Linked DNA regions of Homo sapiens: region 2 is linked to region 1. Evidence: fine-mapped expression QTL. Tissue or cell type: whole blood. Region 1 holds a variant in brackets; the other region holds the start of a gene. All regions are shown on one strand. Distances are between the middles of the regions.

Region 1 (2,764 bases):
AGGATGAAGTGCCATTGCTGCGGCAACCCTGAAAGGAACGGCCTGCAAAGCCGGACGCAGTAGCTCCCCTCACCCCGCCATTCGGTCTCCCTCTAGCGTGCCCTACTGGCCAAACTTATTAAGAAGCCAGATGGCAAAGCGGATATGCAGAGCGCTGAGACTAGCCCGGGGAATCACAAAGCTGGTGGGTTTGGAGCTGAAAGATAACAGCTTAAAAACTGGCACTGACGTTGAATTAAGGAAATTAAGATGTGATAACTGATAAGAATTCTTTCATTCTAAATCATAATATTATTCTGTGGTAAAAACAAGCTGAGGTACTGACTCCAGAAATAGAGCTGAGCCTGTCCAGAGGCTAGATGGCTGGGGACTTCTGAGAGCAACAGAAAAGATGAAAATGTTCAAAGCACAATTTTGTCATCTGATCTCCTTTTTTGAGTCTCCTTTGAAAGAATCACTTCCTCGGTGCTTCAGTGACATTCTCTATAAAACTGTACTGACTTTTTACCCTACTCTACGCTATATATAAATATAAGCCAAAACCACATAGGACCTGGCTATATTTGGTATGCCTCATCTATCATGGATAGTTAATTTGTGCATTCATCTTTTAAAACTAATAATGAATTTCTAAAACCTTTTAAACGGGCTTAAGTTTTGTAATCCATTTACGGAACATGCCTGCAATGAAAAATTAATTATTAAACAAGAGCCTTGGGAGGACATCAGCGGCCTTGTCACCCACGCACTTGATTGATAACATGTCAGTTTCCAGACCACGGAGGGTGCTGACAGCTCTCAAATTTAAACCCGGAAGGGTAATGCTAAGCATGTCATGGCATAAGTCACATTTTTAAATTATTTTTTATTAAATGTTAGATAGAATAAATTCATCCATGCCTCTCAAACTCAGCCTGATTAAATGAGCTGGCACTCTTTCAAATGTAAAGCATGGTTATGGCTTCTCAAGGGCATCGGAAAGGCTGAAGCATAAGACACGGTAAATACAAAAGGCAAAAGAGGTGGACAGTGATATATTCACAAGCACCACGGGCGAAGTGAGGTTTTTAAAAATGCTGAGGCTAACAAAACAAGGGCAGCACGGTCCCCAAATGGTAAATGCACCTGCAGTGAGAGACTCTGCTTGAGTGCTGGTGCATAAAAGTGTCCACCACTAAGGGAAAAAAACAACAGTAACAACAACAAAACCCTAAGAAACAGAAAGGAA[C/T]AGCTGTAACCAATTTTCAAACCCTAAGTTTTGAGGTTGGGTTAGGAAGTTAGAATTGTTCCATGTTTGTGTCAGTTCTACCCTTTAATTTCACAAAGTTAAGATGGTTTTCTGTGACTATAAAAAAAGAAAAGAACATCTGTTATAGTGTGTCTTCCTGTAGCAAAGACTACTGCTTCTTGAGCTTTTCTTCTTTCAGGCAAACCTCAATCTCATTCTATAAAAAGATTGAAAAATTATGTATATCAAATATACTCGAGCAGTTCAGAGAGAACATATCATCTGCATTACTGCTGTCTAAAAATCCTCTGATATACTGAATTCAAACTAAAAGAACCTAAATGAAGAAAACAATAATTTACTTAGACCCAACTGGGTCACAATATTTGAAAAATGATACAGATTATTTTCTCTGTATACTATGAATTATTGTATTAACTTCATTTATTTTTTTTCAATAATTATTTGCAATTAATTCGGCTGATGGGCTAAACTCTCCAGAAGATACAAATATGTGAACAACACTGTCTAGTCTTGCAGAGCTTTGTATTTAATGGGAAGATACAGTAAAGGAAAATGTTCTGTCTTATCTGAGAGGCACAAGGAAAGTGCTATGTAAACTGAAGCTTGGGTTCTCAGAAGAGGTTTCATTAAGAGAATATCTTACCAGCGGGACATTTTATTGAATGTTACTATTTTTCCAGGTAGTTGGAGTACATTGGTGAATAGTCACCACTCTCTGCCCTTGTGAAGCTTGTATTCTAGTGAGTACAGACAAGTAATATTCAATACACAGTAATAAATATGTTATATGACATGTTAGAACATTAGTGTTTAAAAAAAAAAGAAAAAGCACAGGATAGTTGGGATTCTGAGTTCTTCATGCTGGGAATGAGTGATTATAGTTTTAATTAGGGTGGGTGAGGTAGGCCTCACAGAGAAAGAGATATTTGAAAAAAGATTCTACTACATTCTTTCAACTTTTAAACTAAATAAATTTAATTGTTAAAGAATAAGTAATTTGATATGTGAAGAATTTTAATAAGCATTGCTAGTGTGAGAGTGTTTCAAGAAAGGAAATAGCATCAACATTATAAATTAAGTTTATGTGTATGCTCAGTGCCTAGTACCAAACTGACATACAGTAAGCACACAAAAATGTTTACTGAATAAATGTACAAGTAAACTGATAGTATTATGAAATCCCTGAATGAATGTGTCTAAATGTGAATAGTACTGTTTGGCTAGTAAGTGTCTGGTTTCTTGCAGAATCGTAAAAGAAAAAGCTAACAAGTTAGGTGGAGACCTTACTCCAAATGCAAAATTAAAGGATTTTTATAGAAAATTCAGTATAGAATTGAAAACTAAGTTTTTAGCATCAAGGAAGAAAAGAACAGAGAAAAAGAGTTGTTGACAGGAATAGCATTGTGCTTTGAAGTGGTGGTTAAGTTTGATTAGATATGAAAGACACTGGAAATGTGGGAGGTGATTATTAGACTCCTAAATACCCCTTTCAAGAGATAACACAGACTTAAG
Region 2 (2,764 bases), 230 kb after region 1:
ATGCATTCTTGTTCTCCTCTTCCCCTCCCCCTGTCTCACCCTCCTCCTAGCCTCTAACCTACCTCCCTCAGTCTTTTCAGGTGCAAGTGAAAAACACTAAGTATTTAGCTACGGTTCCTGCTAATTGCTTTGTCACATGTCAAATGTGTTTTCTTCTCTGCCCCACTGAGTCACCTATCTTTTCTAAAAAGGCTATCTTTTTCTTTCCTCCCAGTTCTTCAACTGCCTTCTAATACAATCTTACTGGGAAACGAGCATCCGGACATGCCGCTGCAGCGGCATCAGAAGCAATAGTCACCGGCCTCTACACATCCTCATTGCCTAAAAGCACAACAACAAGACTTCAGATTTCTTGCCCACAGCTTGCTCTCCTTTCTCCATATTGACAAATTATCCTCATTAGGATTCATAAACACATTAAAACTTTTAAAAATGTATAATAATATAGGATTCATTTTCCTAGAGGTGGAAGAGAGTGCCGAGATATAAGTGAAACGCAGCTAACATTCCCATGTAACATCACAATATTTTCTACTGAACATAAAAGAGAAAAAAAATGCAATTTCTTAATCCTGATCTCTGGTTAGAATATTAGTAACATTTGCCACACATAAATACTGCAACCCAATCATGCAGGTAAAAAGGCTTCTGCTTAGATAACTGCAGTTTAAATGGGTGCAAGGCTCCAGGCAGCTACCTACTTGAGTAGGACTGGTCAGTTCTCAGGCTCTAATCTTATCTGCATTAGGCTGCACAGTAGCTGATGCCCGCGATTAGTTCCGGCAGAGTGATGCAGGTAGGGATGCAGATACAGCCGAGTAGGTGAGCTCTGCCCCAACCGTCTACCCAATTACAAGCATCTTTCGCCTACACTGAGGACACATCTAAACACAGAATTTACAATTGTGCATGCGAAACTTTACACTTACGTTAGTTGCCTCAACCTTTCCCCTTTCCCAGTATGCTGCAGTTAGGAATGATTTGTTCCAACACATAGAAAGCCATGCATCTGGTAGCACCAGTTTGGGGAGAAATCAGAAGCAGCAAAATGTTTCCTCCTTGTAAAATGTGTTGCTTCGGGCTGGCAAATTAGCAACTCCAGAGAACAAATTCACGGATTTGTCGTTAGTCATTCTCTCCACATTTCGTCTCTCTTACCCACTGGGTCTGGGTTCTTCTGGGCATTTAGCACACACAACACATAGTTGCACTTCTTCAGCTCAGGGATATTTTCCACAGCAGCATGCATACCATTTCCATCCGATGCCAATACTGCTTAAGTCTCTAACTTCTTGTAGGAAACGTCAGAGTTGCGGTGATGATGATTCTCTGACAGCTATCCGGGTGACAGTTGCCCGAAAAATTCCTAATCGGTTATCTCTTGCGTGCTTCAGAGACTCTGAGGCGCTCCTTTCCGTCTCGCGTGCTCTCCCTCTCTCCCTTCCCCTCTGCCCCTCTCTCCTTCTCCCTCTCCTCTCTCTGAACTGAATTTCTTGATATAACTCTCAATAAGCCCAGAGGGAGGGCGTGACTGCCCAGGCCCCGCCCCCGGGCTCTGATTGGCCTGCATCTTGCGGCGCGGGCGGCCGCAGCCCGGCGCGAGGGAGGGAGCGCGGAACAAGGCGCTGACTGTCTCCCAGCCTCCCCTCCTCCGCGCCCCCTCGGCAGCAGCGAAAACCCGGAAATCTGATCCTGGCCCCAGGAGAGCCGGGTTCCATGAGGTGCACTGAGCATGCTCTGCAGGGTCCGGCGTGGGAGGGACGCGCTGGCGCTCCCCAGGCCCGGGCGGAAGCGGCGCTCGCAGGCGCTGAAAGCGAGCGACCCTCTGAGCCCGGGTGGTCCGGCGGGCAAGGGCGGCGCGGGAGACCCGCAGGGCGCGGGCGCGGATCCGGGGAACCAGGGCCACCGCTGCGGGCGGATGGGGGTCACCGAGGCGGCTCGTCTCCAGGCGCACACTTCGCACATCTCTTTGCTAAGTGAAGGGGCCAAAATGCACAGATGGGGGAGTCTACCCAGGAACAGAGGCGCGAGACGTATAGCCACCCCTGGGTTGGGAGCACGAGCCAGCAGATCCCCGGAGCGCGTTAAACGGACAACATGCCCGGTGCTGCAAATAGAGGCTTTTGCTGGCAGGGACATTGGAAAGAAGGGCGGAGAGGGAGTACAGCGAAAGGTGGGGACCGCAGAATTTGGAATCTCTGCGGAGACCGGAAAGAAAATTAATCGGAGCACTTCCTACATGCAGAGCCACGGAAACTGCCTTGGAAAGAGAAAGTGGCAGCGTCTGGGTCCCCTCGGTCAGCCCGGGCCAGTCGGCTGCGCGTGCGAAGTCTCCTCTAGCGGAGCGGGACCGGCCGCGGCGGTGGATCGTGGCGGTCCCTGCACTTCTGCTCCAGCCGCGCCTGGAAACCTGAGCCCGGACTCGCGGCTGCTGCAAAACCCGCTTCCAGCCCACCTCACTGCGAACTTTGCTTCCGAGGGGCTGGAAGGAGTCCCAGGCAGCTGTTTCCCAAGCTGTGGAACACTTCCTTTCCCCTAGGCACTTTCTGCTGATTCCAACTTTCTTTCCTGTGATTTTCGTCTTTTCCCGTGCATTTCATTTCTCCGACTCCAGCTCTGTACTAAATCCTCACAAGTTTCTCGTTTTCATACGGGAACTGGATGGAATGACTCCCCAAAAAATACAGCTTTATTTCTCAAATACTGACCCCCAAAGCACTATCTAGTAATATATTTGATTGATCTTTCAAAGTCAGTAAACCAC

Evidence for each region. PIP is the estimated chance that this variant, and not a neighbour inherited with it, causes the effect.
Region 2: PCDH9 starts here. The variant in region 1 is fine-mapped to the expression of PCDH9 in whole blood (TOPMed, PIP above 0.99).

What each region holds. Positions count from the first base shown.
Region 1 is chr13:66,994,290-66,997,053 of GRCh38, forward strand. The region is part of intron 2 of PCDH9 (protocadherin 9); the gene reads right to left. PCDH9-AS4 (PCDH9 antisense RNA 4) reads left to right here. Exons shown (of 3, transcript NR_046637.1): 2 at 1,933-1,992. Among named protein-coding and RNA genes, the nearest start is that of PCDH9-AS4, 4.8 kb to the left of the region's middle. The variant C/T (reference allele first, on the strand shown) is at 1,229.
Region 2 is chr13:67,228,851-67,231,614 of GRCh38, forward strand. PCDH9 (protocadherin 9) reads right to left here and starts at 1,486. Exons shown (of 5, transcript NM_203487.3): 1 at 930-1,486. RefSeq lists a silencer at 1,757-1,896.